Linked DNA regions of Homo sapiens. The protein of the gene in region 1 purifies or fractionates together with the protein of each later gene. This does not show direct contact. Each region holds a gene or a part of one and is shown on either strand. Other genes may lie near its edges.

Evidence for each region. Proteins that work in one complex are often made in the same cells at the same time.
Region 2: the proteins of CARD6 (region 1) and NOD1 purify together in Homo sapiens (affinity purification with western blotting, with the first as the bait; one study listed by BioGRID). This does not show direct contact.
Region 3: the proteins of CARD6 (region 1) and XK purify together in Homo sapiens (affinity purification with western blotting, with the first as the bait; one study listed by BioGRID). This does not show direct contact.

The regions. Positions count from the first base shown.
Region 1 is NC_000005.10:40,839,707-40,845,346, reverse strand, and holds the start of CARD6 (caspase recruitment domain-containing protein 6), read right to left. Parts: upstream 3,981-5,640; 5' UTR 3,965-3,980; coding exon 3,682-3,964; intron 2,196-3,681; coding exon 1,638-2,195; intron 453-1,637; exon of another isoform or gene 337-452; intron 1-336. UniProt on the Homo sapiens protein: May be involved in apoptosis.
Region 2 is NC_000007.14:30,471,493-30,476,635, reverse strand, and holds part of NOD1 (nucleotide-binding oligomerization domain-containing protein 1), read left to right. Parts: intron 1-647; exon of another isoform or gene 648-788; intron 789-5,143. UniProt on the Homo sapiens protein: Pattern recognition receptor (PRR) that detects bacterial peptidoglycan fragments and other danger signals and thus participates in both innate and adaptive immune responses.
Region 3 is NC_000023.11:37,687,940-37,693,082, forward strand, and holds part of XK (endoplasmic reticulum membrane adapter protein XK), read left to right. Parts: intron 1-5,143.

The DNA of each region.
Region 1 (5,640 bases):
TATGACTGGTGTCCTTTTTTATTTTGGCCAAAGGGGTGCACACTCAGGGACAAGGACATTTGAAGGTGAAGGCATATCAGAGGGATGCTTGCACAAGCCAAGCAGTGTCAATGATTTCCAGCAAACCACCAGGAAAGCTAGGATCCTTCAGATCACATCCTTCAGAAGGAACCAACCCTTGTCCAGGCACAGTGGCTCATGCCTTAATCCCAGCATTTTGGGAGGCCAAGGTGGGTGGATTACTTGAGGTTAGGAGTTCGAGACCAGCCTGGCCAACATGGTGTAACCTCGTCTCTACTAAAACAACAAAAATTAGCCAGGCGTGGTGGCACGCACCTGTAATCCCAGCTACCTGGGGAGCTGAGGCAGGTGAATCGCTTGAACCCGGGAGGCGGAGGGTACAGTGAGCAAGGTCACACCATTGCACTCCAGCCTGGGCGACGAGTGAGACTCTGTTTCAAAAAAAAAAAAAAAAAAAGAAGGAAGCAACCCTGTCAGTACTTTGATACTTTGATTTCAGATTTCTAGCCTCCAAAAGAGTGAGACAAGAAATCTGTGTTTATTGTTTAAGCCACTGATTTTGTGGTATTTTGTTACAGCATCCCTCACAAACTGATACAAGGTGTGATGAGGAAGAAATGACTCTCTTCCTACCCATAAGTGGATTATGAGTCCCCAAGATTTGAAATTAATGTGAGATGGTAGCTACATTTTCATCCTCTACTCAGAACTTAGTGATGTCTGTTTTCCCAGGCAATATCACTCCAATGAAACACTTCTCATATTTTGAATTTTCATTAAGAAATATTCAGATTTGGCTAGGTGCAGTGGCTCACACCTGTAATCCCAGGATTTTGGGTGGCCAAGGTGGGCAGATCACTTGAGCCCAGGAGTTCGAGACCAGCCTGAGCAACATGGCAAAATCCCATCTTTACAAAATACAAAATTAGCCAGGCGTGGTGGCAGGCACCTGTAATGCTAGCTACTCAGGAGGCTGAGGTAGGAGGATCACCCGAGCCTGGGAGGTAGAGGCTGCGGTGAGTCATGATTGTGCCACTGCACTCCAGCCTGAGTGAGACCCTGTTTAAAAACAAATTTTTTTTAAATAAAGAAATATTCAGATTCAAGATACAAATATAATTCTCATCAAGATGGCATTATGTGGACTGGATCAAGCCAAGTAACAATATTTTGGGATCTTAGCCATTTACTGACTGTTTTCACTTAAATAGTCAAACCCATAATCCCCATATCTCTCTGGTCACAAAGGCACTAAAATAACTAAAGTGGTTTAACCTGAGAAATAGGTTAGCCTGAAATTAATGATTAGCAACTCCTCGTACGTATAATGGGAAATTAATGATTGGCAACTCCTTATACGAACTACAGAAATTTACAAACTGACAATCAATATTTACTTTTGCTTATGCTGTCCATCATTTCCTAGGTCCTGGGAGCTCCTTTAAGTCAACACCTACCTCGAGGAGATTCCAGGTCAGAGAGGCACGAGGAATTTCTTAGTAGTTGATTTTCTGCTGACATCTGTCCCTTTTTCATCCCCCATCCCCATTATGTCATGGCAAGCTTATTAACTTATTAAGTTGTTGCCTAACTAACTATACAAGATATTTCCATACCTTCTATACTTTTCTCCTGTTCCTCCTCCAATGAAAGGCTGGTTTCTGATCCCTCATAACTTGGTTCTTCACCAGAGAACTCTGTGGTTTCTGAATTCTCGAAGTCCTCTTCACCATCATATCCAACGTGCTCTGGGTCATCATAAACCTCCTCTTCCACAGTGGCTTCTGCATCTTCAGGGGTGTCAACAGATCCTAGATATTCCTCTTTTCCTAAGTATAAAGAATCATCTAGCTCCTCATATCTCTGTCCATCTTTTATATATGTAATAGTTGCTGGAACTTCACATCCAACTTTCTCAACTGAATATGATAATGTGACTTCTGGTGTGTCATATTCCTTCTCATTCTTCCTGGCAGACAAAGCTGTTTCCCTATAACTAGTTTTCTTGTCCCTGAAAAACTCAGAGGTTTCCAAATCCAAGTGTTCCTTCTCACTGAAGAACACTGTGATCTCAGGGGCTTCAGGCTGTTTTATTCCAGGAGAAAAAGCATCTTCTGAATTACTGCTTGCCCCCATAGATTGAGGAGGTACTGTATTCTCATGTTTTAAAACTTCTGCAAAGAAAAGAATTGTTTTTCCCAATTAAGAAAAAGAAGCTGTATAACAGCTAGAGTTCCTGAGGCCTCAAAGCTTCATCCCTCTCCTTTTATTTATTTATTTATTTTTTGAGACAGAGTTTCACTCTTGTTGCCGAGGCTGGAGTGCAATGGCACGATCTGGGCTCACTGCAACCTCAACCTCCCGGGTTCAGGTGATTCCCCTGCCTCAGTCTCCCAAGTAGCTGGGATTACAGGCATGCGCCATGATGCCCAGCTAATTTTTGTATTTTTAGTAGAGACAGTGTTTCACTATGTTGGTCAGGCTGGTCTCAAACTCCTGACCTCAGGTGATCCATCTGCCCCGGCCTCCCAAAGTGCTGGGATTACAGGTGTGAGCCACAGCGCCCAGCCACCTCTTATTTCACTGGAGGACAGGAATACCTAACACCTCCTATATAACTTGCATGTCAACATGTCAACTTTCAGAACTTTCTTTTTTCCACTAAAAAAAAAAATCAGATCACACCACTGTCTTGCTTAAAGTTTGAGTCCTTCCTAGCAACCTTACAGGGTAAGTGAATAAAACGAAAAATTTGAATCATATGAACAGTGTTTACTTGTGGACTTACTGTGACTCACAACAGACTCACGTCTCTTGGGGTCATTGCTAATGAAATCTGATCACAAATAATTTCTAATCAGTAAGCAAATGGCTCTATTTGGAATAGTGTGCTTTAGAAATAATAAAAGAAAAATTTCTAAGCATATAAATCTTGTCCTAAATTAGGTATCACTAACATTCACCTTTTTATCTGAGCCTCTACCTCTCTAACATCCCTTAAAATAATTTTGAATTTTTTTTTAGATTCCTAGAAAAAGAGCTAGACCTAGTCCTAGTAGTAATTTACAGAATTGCTAAATAACTGGAAGAATTGCTTTTTCATGGACTACTAGTTATCTTTGAACCATTTAAGAATTAGCACTGGAATTGCTCCAGAAAACAGCTGCTGCTGGCATTCTTATCACCAAAAAAATGAAACTACTGATTTGCCATCTATGTGTTAAAAATTATTTTCCTTGTATTTTCAAAACGGCTATACTAAGTGAAAGATACAGCTTGTGGTCTTGGCACTGTAAATATCCACGAATTCATCTACTTGAAAAACAAACCCTGGATTGTGTTATTATTAAAGTATTTTCCTTCCAACTGTGAGATTTTAGCATGTTACTGCCAGAATAATGAGCAGTTTGTTAGCACTAAAACAACTTCAAGTTTTGAGTACAGTCTGAAAAACAAATTATCGATTCAGTAGACCAATAAGATGTTAAATTTCAGAAACTTTTTAAATTCCAGTTTTTCCCTATTTCATATTTCAATGAAAATTATCTCCAGAAAAAGACTAACAAAAATAAAAGGCAACAATTTTCTTTCATTTTGTTTTCTTTTTCAGAAAGTCTGCCCCCTTCCTCTCACCCCAAAAAGTATACAAAGTCAACTTACCATGCCTTAAGCCGCAAATGGCAGCTGACTGTGGAAAAGTACTAAATAAACACTTGAGAAAATGCTGACAGGTCGCCTCTCCCTTTTTCTGTACCAAAATTAACAGCTTCCGACTTTTCTTCAGGAGATCTGTAACATTCTCCAGAGTCTCATACTCTTCCTCAGAAATCAGCCTCCGAGAAGTTAACGTGTCTAAGATAGAATCAGGATCATGTTGAAGGATTTCAAGCAACTTTTTTCTTTCTCTTTCTATGATCTCTGAGGGAGTACTCTCGGTAGCCATTGTTCCTGTTTCCTCTAAACCAGGAAATATATTATGAAATCATCCTAATGAATAAGTAAAAGTTAAAAAAAGAATGACAAAGAACAATTCTATTTGGCTAAGCTTTAACATGTCAATGATGCCTAGTGTTGGAGAGTGCAGATACAAGCACAGTGGGGCAACCCAGCTCGGAGCACTCTCTGATCCGGGGTCCTTGTGGATTATTTATCTGCTCTTTTGAAGTCTTGATAAATTCTCACCATGACTCAGACCCAGGGTCACCTCCTCCAAGAAGTCGCTCTTGAACTTCAGGTTGGACTAGGTATTCCCTGCTCAGAGAACTATACTATGATGCCAAGAATGTAAATTATTAATTGATATTTGGTGGGCAATATGGCAATATACAGCAATAAATAAATAAAGTTGAAGACAGACAAAAATAAAACTTCATATCCTTCAACCCAGCAATTCCAGTTCTAGGAAATTATCTTAAGGAAATAATTGAGCAAATGCCCGAAGATGTATGTACAAGAATCTGCATTACAACATTGTTTACAACAGTACAAAATTGAAAATAACCAAAGTTGGGGTTTAGGGAATAAATATTGACATGTCGACAGTGAAACACCAAAGAACTGTTAAAAAGGATAAAGTACATCTCTACATATTGACAAGTAATGATATCCATGATATATTGCTATGGAAACAGCAAGTTATAGATCTCATTTTTGTTTTAAAAAACTTAATGTGTATATAGTATATGTATATAATATGTATATGCAGATATGCATTATATTTTAAAGAAGACAAGAGATATCCCAAATTTTAACACTGGTTATCTCTGAGAATATGACTACAGGGAGATTTATACTTCCACTTTAAACATTACTATTTAATATTTTACATTTTTGGTTTTTTATTATTATTTATTTTAAGAAAATTACCTGGTTGGTCTTTATTTACTCCTTCATAGTTCACAAGAACCTGAAAGCGATCTGCATAACTAGCAACAGGATACTGGATGAATAAACTGTGATATTTCTTATAACATAATATTACATGGCATTCAAAAAGAATGAACTTCAGTGACCCACAATATAGAGAAATCATAACAATAGTAAGGAAAAACTGTAAATCCCAAAAGATTATATACAGTATGACAACCTTTTTAAAAGTTGAAAATAAACACACCCTTACATTTAAGAGTATACATGAAGTCATTAAAATTATACAAAACAAAAAGCAAAGAATGATAAATATGAAATTCAGAATGATGGTTACCTCGCATATGGGGAGCTTGGGGATGGGATGGGATTGGGGAGGAGATCATGGATGTCCTACAATGTAGGAGTTGGGCCTATCAGGGCTACTATATTGTTAAAGGTAAATAGCTAATATGTAAATAAAAGCAGAACATGCATGAACCAATGCTATTAGGAACCAAGGATAATGAGTAATACAATTCTGGTATCTCCAAGGTTAAAAAAGAATTTTAAAATCCTGGCTGGGCGAGGTGGCTCATGCCTGTAATCCCAGCACTTTGGGAGTCTGAGGAAGATCACTTGAGACCAGGAGTTTGAGGCCAACCTGAGCAACATAGCAAGACCCTGTCTCTACAAAAAATTTAAAAATTATCTGGTCGTGATGGTGCGCATCTGTAGTCCCAGCTGCTTGGGACAGGAGGCTGAGGCAGGAGA
Region 2 (5,143 bases), on another chromosome or scaffold:
TAAATGGCTTTCCAAGAAAGCTGGGCTGTGCACAGTGTCTCAGAATTAGTGTATGTGCACACACACGCACGTTGCTCCCTGCTGACAACATCCTCAGACCATACCCTTGGTGTTCCTGTTTTGCTCCTGACTCTTGGCCTAGGGACAGTGAATCTTTCTTGAATGACCAAGGACAGTCAGGGATCTGAGGAAGGGAGAACCCAAATTCTACAATTGCTGATGCCTGCGTCCCAGCTGGAACTTTACCCTGGTACGTGCTCTGTGCATCATGGATGGTCACTTTGATCCTAACAGCAGTGCTGTTTAGATTAGACATCAGAAATAGAAACAGTAAGTAATATAGGCATAAAGATCAAGTGTTTTTCTAGTGTATGTGTGATCACTGATATTTGCTTACACAAGACTATCAAAGTCTTATCTCTTATTCAAAGAAAAGGATTCAATATTTGTTCAAAATCTAAGATATGAACGTAGGATTTAAGGTTTAAGTTACTAGTTTCTTCTATCATTCTTATTATTGGGGGGATTTTTTTTAGGCAAGAAGAAATTAGAAAAGCTAAAATGTGTACTTATGCTGAATTTTTGTCATGCAGAGGCTCTAGGTATTTTGCAAGTTTTCAGAAGTCCCATTTTCTTTTATCTTCTAGGGACAGTCAGTTGCATGTCACACAAGGGGCCTCCTTTGATTTATCCAAAAGGTCTGACCTGGTTTCTGGAAAAACTCTTTAGCGCATCAAATACTCGTTGAGGGCAAGTGTTGTTTCTAAACTTGACTCTTGTGGTGAGAGGTGAGTAGTCACTGGCATGTCAGTTAGCTGACATTTTTTACCCACGCTAGAAAGTTCATTCAGGCAAGACTTCCTGGCTTGAACTCTTATTTAAACATGTGTTTTATCTGGAACTGCCACAGTCCAAACTGTGGGCAGAGATTCCTGTGCAGAGTTGGCTAAGGCAGGCATGCCACCGGCCCTTCTCTTCGCCATCCTCCCTGTCTCTGGAGCCATTGAGCCAACCGGGGATGATGCCACTCTGAAGGGATCTCACCTTGGTCCTCTAATGGGGCAGAGTTCCCTGATGAGGGATGCACGTCCTTAGAGCCAACAAGGCAATTTTGTATTATACTGCATGGAAATTAAAAGTTACTCTCCAGTAAACTGCCACTTTAGAATTTGTTTTACTGAAGCGTCCTTTTCCTCTAAATTATAGAGCACTGTAGTAAGGGCCCAGATAATTTCAAAGTGAGCACCAGATTAGTGCCAGATTTTGGCAGATTAAGATTTTAATAAAACATGAACATTCACCTTGATTACATTTGTTTCAGAAAGTTGATGTCCCTTGGCCTTCTGTTCTGTCATTGCCACCATACAGGTTAGGGTCAGAATTGGGAGAATGTAGTCATTTGGTAGATATTTTCAGAGCCACATGCAACTGGGCCTGGCAGTCACATATTGCTAAGGAAACGCCTTACATGATAGCAGAGCTGAGAGCAGATGATGATTTACTTGGGAGAGTATTCGTTTTCTAATTCCCAAAAGATTAAAAGTCTAATGAGTAAGAACTTCCCCTGCTTCTTGTAACACATGCCCAGATTGCTGCCTATGACCTCAAAACCAAACCTTCTTGGAAGGAACTGGGGGAAAGCTAGGCTTTTTTGGCAGGGGATATCCTAACTCCTTACAACACAGGCCCCTTCAGTGAGTGGGTCATTTCTGGACTCCATTTAACAAAGCTAGTGTTTCATACTTAATATGAAAACAGGCGTGTTGATGATTTCAAATAGAGATGTTGGGTCTATAAAGTATACCAGACATGCAGGGCTGAAATGGAAGAAACAATGGGTTTTGGAGTCAGAACCAGGATCCAATTCCTGTTTTATTCCTTACTTCAGGGGTCCCCAATCCCTAGGCCATGGACCAATACCAGTCGGTGGCCTCTTAGGTGGGCCGCACAGCAGAAGGTGAGCAGCAGTGAGCAAGCATTACCGCCTGAACTCTGCCTCCTGTCAGATCAGCGGTGGCATCAGATTCTCATGCGAGGGGAACCCTATGGTGAACCGCACACGCGAGGGATCTAGGCTGCACATTCCTTATGAGAATTTAATGCCTGATGATCTGAGGTAGACAGTTTCATCCTAAAACGATCTCCCCTGTGCCCCTACTCGCCGCTGTCTGTGGAAAAATTGTCTTCCATGAAACCAGTTCCTCGTGCCAAAAAGGTTGGGGATCACTGCCTTAACTAACTGTGTGACCTTCACCAACATACTTAACCACTCCAACTCTGTGTCCTCCTTTGTAAACTAGTTACAATAATGCTTTCCTTGCTGGGCAGTTTTCAGTATTTGATGAGCTAATCTATGTAAAGTGCTTAGCACATCACCCAGCTTCTAGTAAGTCATGATTATGATGATAAAGATTATGATGATTACTTTGGTTCCAGGGCTGGTCTTTCCTTCTCCTAGTTGTGTGACTTCAGATAAGGTTTTTAATCTTCTTGAGCCTTGGCTTTTGAATCTGTAAAATGGGCTAACTCTACCTATCTGGAAAGATTGCTTTGAGGCTTGATTTGATTAAATGAAATGATGACAGGCCTGATCTGGTAGACCCTAAATAAGAATAGCATTTACATAGACTTCCTGTGTCCCACACTGGTCTAAGAGTTTAGGGTTTTTGTTGTTTGTTTTTAGCTCATTTTATCTTCCCAGCGCCCCTGTGCAGTGGTTATCATTTCCCTTGTTTTATAGAGGAGACAACTGAGGCTCAACAAGATTAAATAACTAGCCCAAAGTCTATCCCAGGACTTGAAGCAGAGTCCCTGTTCTTAACCACTGCCCCAGCTGCTCAGTGAGTACCCCCACCCCTGCTTATTCTACCTACCTCCTGATGCCCATCTCCTGCCATTAACAGTCAGATGTGCTTATGCTCTGTGTAGGGCCATATTTCTGGAAACAGAGCCCCTGCTTCCAAAGAGCAGCTTACTTAGGAAGTGAAAGTGGCAGCTCACTCCTCCTGTCGCCTCCTCCCACTTCCAGATAACATTAAACCTCATCCATTGCTTAGGCTGGTTAATATCAACTGGAAAAAAAAATCTGATACCGATATTGACTAACATTATTAGAGTGGGTTGCAATGTTAGTTTTGAGATAAATGTCATCTCGATGCACTGAGATTGTTAGCCTGTGTGTAATAAAACATGCCTTCACCCAGACAGATGTGGGGGGTGTTTGGAAGACAGAAACCAGGCCTAGGAGATCCCAGGTTGAGACTCAGGTGGACAGCAACAGTATTGAAAATAATATTACATCAAAGGTGCAGTGGTCTGTTCTAAGTACACCACCTTTTCTGACATTCCTTACTCATCCTCCCTCTCCTTTACCCCAGTGGCTTTGGCCTCTTCTTGAGTTCTGGCAATCTTCCCTGAGGTCTGGGTCAGTGGAATTTGGGGGCCCAGAAAGGCAAATTCTCAGTTGAGTGAGGTGTGGCTTCTTTAGCATTCCTGATAATGAGGTAGTAATTGCTTTTCTGGCTTTCTGTGTGTGTGAAGTGCTCTGCTGGCCCCCTACCCTGGTGTGGAAGGCTGTTAGAAAGCTATTTATAGCTCTTGGTTCCTTCTGGCACTTTGGGGCTTCAATTCTGCAACATGTTAATTCAACAAATATTATCAGAAAGTCTTGCTGGTGCCAGGAGTCTACTAAGTACTTGGATTACAGCAATGAATGAAACAGACCCTGCCTCTGGCCATATGGAATTTGGAGGCTGCCGGGTGGAGAGGATGTCTTAGTCAGCTTGGGTTGCTAAAACTATCACAGACTGGGGGACTTAAGCAACAAACATTTATCTCTCACAGTTCTGCAGGCTGGAAGTGTGAGACCTGGTTGCCAGCATGGGAGTTTGGTGAGGACCCTCTTCCTGATTTGTGAAAGAGGTTTCTCATGTCTCTTGCTATAAGGGCACTAATCCCATCATTGGGGCTCCACCCCCACGACCTCATTTAAACCTATTCACCTCCCAACAGCCCTATCTGTAAACACCATCAAATCGGGGGTTCTCCCTCACCATGTGAACTTTGGAGGGACATAAACATCAGTCCATAAGTAGGAGGTTAGGGCAGTAAGCACACAGGTAAATACATAATTGTAACTTGTGGAAAGTGCTTTAAGTGAAAACAACAGCATGTCATGAGACAGGAGATCAGAGCAGAACTAGAATTAGGAGAGTCTGGGGACGCCTCTCAAGGAATGAGCCTTTTCAACTAGGACTTGGGATGAAAAAAAGAGTGAAATCATGCTGGATGCAGAGAACAGTGGGTTCAAAGACCCAGAGGTGAATGGGAAGGATGTGGGTGTGTTGAGTGGCTGGTGTGGTAAGGCCCAAGCCCAGGAGGGTACAGAGCTAAATAATGAGACACACTCAGGCCAAGTAGGGCCTCCTGGGCTGGGTAAGGATTTGGGATTTTATTCTGAAGTGCGGAGGGAAGCTTTGGAGGAATTTCCCCTCCTGACTTTTTCCTGTCATTCATAATATACAAGAAAAAGATCATTAGTCACTTCTATTTATTCAGATAATGAACAATCTCTACTTCTTAAGCTATATAAACCTTGTCTTAGTGTGTGAAACAATTCTGGAGTGTCTAGTTTTCAATCTCCAGATGAGGGAACTGAGGCTCAAAACAAAGTGAAAGAAGGCAGAGGCAGGATTTGGAACCAGGCCTGCCCAGCCCACGGCACATGCTCTGTAGTTTTCTGGGACAGATGAGTGTAAATGCATATGGGCCTCCTAGGCACCCGGCATCCTTCATCAGGAGCTTCAGTGGATGGACTAGGGTGGAGTCCAGTCCTTCCTGGCTCTTTAGAAACAGGAACAAAAGACCCCGAAGAGTGGAGGGAGGTTGGGCATGTACAGGTCAGGGGGTCAGAATCTGTAGGCACCAAATGTCAGGGCCCCCTGGCTATGGGAAGGGCTGTCAGTTTTTCACGCTAGTCTGTTCTGCTCCGCCTAGCTGTTGCCCAGAAATCCCAAAGAGGGTGCCTTCCCAGCTCTGTTCACCTTTGAAAATCTGAATTCATCATTTGTGTGCACTTGAGAGACCCAGGGTTTGGTAAAAACAAAATTCTTTATTGGGTGTTTTCAGGTCACAGGAAAAGCCT
Region 3 (5,143 bases), on another chromosome or scaffold:
CCTTCCTAGCCAGGTAAGCCCTGTGGTCTGGACTGTATTCTTGCTCAGTAAAATAAGTGTGATCTGACTTTGGGCAGGGCACTTATCATTTCTTTCTTTCTTTCTTTCTTTCTTTCTTTCTTTTTTTTTTTTTTTTTTTGAGACGGAGTCTTGCTCTGTCGCCCAGGCTGGAGTGCAGTGGCGCGATCTCAGCTCACTGCAAGCTCCGCTTCCCAGGTTCACGCCATTCTTCTGCCTCAGCCTCCTGAGTAGCTGGGACTACAGGCGCCCGCCACCACGCCCGGCTAATTTTATTTTTTTGTATTTTTAGTAGAGACGGGGTTTCACCGTGCCAGCCAGGATGGTCTCAATCTCTTGACCTCGTGATCCGCCTGCCTCGGCCTCCCAAAGTGCTGGGACCACAAGCGTGAGCCACCGTGCCCGGCCTTATCATTTCTTAACATTATCTGTGAGAAGAAAACAGATAATGTTTAAGTGGAGTAACAGGAAAAAGGGGAACTGACATTTCTCAAAAGCTTCTTGTGCTAGATGGTTTGATATGTACTTACATGCCTCAATTCATTGAATCCTCACCATGACATAGACGTAATTGTCCCCATTTTGTAGGTGAAGAAAATGAGGCCTCAGACTATGTTCTCAAGCCTCCTTAAAAAGAGCTAATTATATTCCCTATGCTCAGTGGAAGAAAGCAGAGGACTGTGTAGTACATTCTATTAGTAGTTCCATTTTAAATTAAGAAAAAGTTTGGTCATCTTGGCAATCCAATAAATGATAATACCCTATCATTGCTGCCATTTAAAGTGTTTCTAAACACGAAGAGTAACCCAAGACAAAGCTAATGACATAATATATATAAAAACAGGATGACAAGTATAAACCTGAACTCAAGGAAACATACCAAGATGTTAAGAATAATAATTTCTGAATAGTGGGGTTATGAGTGATAATATCCTGGAAAATATATAAAACTATATAATAAAACAATTATCTACTTTTCTATATTTTTCAGTTTTTACCATAAAAATATTTTAACTTTATTAAGGAAAGAAAACTTTTGGTGCTTTGAAGAGATAACTTCTCAGCTATATATAAAGTTTCAACACTATAAAAAGACCTATTTCCAGAAAGTTCTGAATGGGCCATTGTCTTCTTGGAGCAAAAACAAAATAAAAGATAAAAAACAAAACAACAGGCAAACCCCTTCCATCAACAAGGAGTCACTGATTCTAATGCAGCTGATTTATTTCAAGGAGTTATTGGACCCATGACCTTAGAGCTGAGATACAAAATGTGGTTCCAAGTCTCTTAGCTTCCAGATTAAAAGAAAAGCAGTTTGTTCTTGTGTATTAGCCTGACTTAATATCTTACTGGAATTTCTTCCTGCTGACTGTTTGATTCTGTTTTAACTCTAAGACATCAGCTTTACATAAAGATAAAAATTATTTCCCTCAAACAAAGGAGAGGCATGGTGATTCTTACCCCCTTCCTTATGGATTGGATTTAATAATATTTCTAAATTGTTTTTTGACAGTTTAACTCTTCTTGCCTTTGGATGAGTACTAGCCAAACTCGTGTTTTTGCTAGGTAGATGCTGCGTTTGAGTTCATGCAGCACGATGGCCCAGTTAAACTGCAATACATTACACTAATGATTCTGGACTAAATACTACTAACTAGGCTTTGCTCCTTCTTTCCTTTAGGGAGGCATAGGGAGAGCACCATATTTCATTTGTATCAGTCTTGTATTTAAAATGGTAGTTACAGTTTTTATGATTGTTTTCACATTAAGCCTGAGTTTGAATGATACGAACTTTGGATAATGCCTTGAATTTATTTATAATTTTAAGGAAAATCTTATTGCGCATTATAATAGATACTCTAGCAAACCAGAGCAGGGAAAAGATCTCTTACCTAAAACACAAAAACATTTTAAAAATTCTGTTTATCATTCTTTTACATTTATGCTAATTTTTATAAATTAATTGGGAGGAATAAATATAAATGAGTTACAATTTCAAGGAATTCCCCTCATTTCTTTTTTATTACTGGTATAGTGAGGAAAAAATGGTACATGAAAAATCTGAGCTTATAAAATAAAGGCTAAGAAGTTCCCGAAACCTTTCCAGAACATTGCAAAATGATTCACCATAGTATATCTTTCTATATTAAACTTTATAAAGAATTTAAAATATTAATAGTCTACATTTGAAGAGAATTTTTTTTTCATTTGCAAGGTGCTTTTACATACAGTATTTAATTTCATCCATGGTAAAACCCTGTGAGTTAACTGTCATTATCTTATTTTTACAGTCCAGGAATTGAGGTTCAGTGAGATTAAGCAAGTGGCTTTTCAAAGGTTTTGCAGCATTTTCTATTTAACCAATTTGGGTTTTGTGTAGGCTTACAGAGCATGTGTGTCATGTGAAGATAATGTGGCTTATTGGAAATTATAGTATTTCTTTGGAAAAAGTATTTTAATTAGGGTCTCTGGTACCACAGATTATTTATGCTCACATCAGCATGCATGATTTCAGCTAAGGAATAAGCTCCTTCTGCTATGATACTTGAAAAGTGGGATATATGATGCTTGAAAATGGGATAAAGTAAAAAATAAGGATCAACCTACTGATTATCTACATTGGGGTTAGCAAACTGTACCCCACAGGCCTAATACCCCCATCACCTGTTTTAGTAGGTAAAGTCTTATTGGAACACAGCGTTGCTCACTGGTTTATGTACTGGCTACAACTGCTTTCACATTGCAGAGACAGACTTGAGCAGTTGCAACAGAGACCATGGCGTGTGAATCATAAAATATTTACTTTTTTATAAATACTTCACAGAAAATTTGCTGTCCCTTGGTGTAGATGATACTGAAAAACTACCTTGAGTATTCAGTTTTGATAAAAGTATCTAATTTCTGGCTTTATTTAGACCTCTCAAGCAACAAACAAATAAAAAACCAAAAAATAAGAACAGATTTTGAGTAATTAGATGAGTCTTGCAGAATTCCAAGAATAGTAGTTTGTTTCTTATCAGTTTTCCTAACCAACAGTGGCAGGAGGTCTTGGGGCCTTTTACAAATGTATTAAACACCTATGACTACATGTAAAACTCTATGCTAATACAAATGTATCACCTGGGAAAAAACAGTGGCTTACAAGAGGTTCCGCCTGAGCTTTAGGACCTTCTTTCATTTCCATCAACTGATCATGGAAGTTTTACTTTGTCTACAATTCTGCAGAAAGCTTCCAGTTTCATATAGCCCCTTCCTTCGCATCAAGAAAATTACTTTCTCCTCTGAACCCTCATTTCGTTCATTCAGTTCTTAGCATATGCTGGTATTTAATTTGTATGTTTTAGTCTTTCAAAACTCTAAGCTTGATTTTATTATGCAAGTAAAACATTTTTTGAAATGACAGAAGAGCAGAAAACAGATTTGCACAATGAGGAAAATAAAAGCTCTCATTTGACTGCTCAGACAGAACAATTCCTAATGTTTTTGTTGTATATCTTTACTAATATTTTTATAATGGTATGCTAGTAAACTGTTGGGGAAAACAAGCCCTGATTTTCAGTGTTTGCTGATTTCTCAAATGCGTATATTCTCATCATGATTGATCAAGCTACCAGTTGTTTAACAACTGGCTCACAAAATTCCTATTTTAACAGTCTGCTCTCTTGAGTCAGTATGAGCCAGCTCAAACATTTCACTGTTTATATGTATGTGTGGGTATGTGTGTGTAATCTGTATATATTTTTTATATATGTGATTTTCTTTTTACAAAAAATGGAATTTAAAATATATGATTCTATTGTAATTTGCTTCTTTCACATACCAAATATGGTAAAAATACGTAGCCTGGTCAACATAGTGAGACTGTTTCCTCACAAAAAATAAAATTAGCTGGGCACAGTGGCATGCATCTGGAGTCCCAGCTACTTAGGAGGCTCAGGAGTGAGGGTCCCTTGAGGCCAGCAGTTGGAGGCTGCAGTGAGCTATGATCACACCACTGCCCTCCAACGTTGGTGAGAGAGTGAGACTGTCTTTTAAAAAAAATTTATATATTGGTATATGTACTTCTATACCATTGATGTTAAGGAATGTATAATGTTTCATTGAATTGATATATTAGGGTTTATTTAATTATTCTTTCATTTTTGGGACCTTTAGAGTATTCCCAGCATTTTGCTATTATACATAATGCTATGATTTAAATTGTTGCAATACGTTTTCTTCTAAGTGAGATCATACGTGATAACATGTCATAACTAAAAGTGCTATATAAATATTAATTTTCGTTTATTATTATTATTATTGTGCATATGTCCCACTATCCCATTTAGATTGTGAGTGCCCCCAAATGAGGCAGGGGTATCCAGCTGTCTGCATTCCCCACAGCACTTAGTAAACCACACCCGCATTCATCTCATATTTGAGAATAAAGATGATTATCAGTTTATTCTGTTTTTGTTTTGTTTTAGTTTGTTTTTTTGAGACAGAGTCTCGCTCTGTCACCCAGGCTGGAGTGCAGTGGCGCAATCTTCGCCTCTTGTGTTCAAGCAATTCTCCTGCCTCAGCCTCCCGAGTAGGTGAGACTACAAGGGTGCACCACCATGCCTGGCTAATTTTTTAATTTTTAGTAGAGATGTGGTTTCACCATGTTGGCCAGACTGATCTCAAACTCCTGACCTCAGGTGATCCGCCTGCCTCAGCCTCCCAAAGTGCTGGGATTACAGGCGTGAGCCACTGCCCCCGGCCAGTTCATTCTGTTTTCTAATCTTTGATGTGATCAGTGGTCCAACAGTGTAAAGTTGCTAGGCCTCATACAGTCCTCAGTCATTAATTTGAGTTTTCCTTCAGAGAAAATTCAATTGGACGTGCTTGGGATTGAACTCATGGCCTGAACTTCATTGACATTATTTCCAACTGAAAAAACTGGTCTGTGTGGTTTTACATTGTTTTCATGTAATATATTAAAGTGTTCTTGACCCCATGGGACAAAATGTCGTACACAAATCAACCCCCCCCCACACACACACCCACACACACCATACACCTTCTTTCTCCTAGCAACAAATGAACAATGGTATTAATCACAAAATATGTCCACTTTGAGCTCACCAGAAAGGTTCCTGCATTT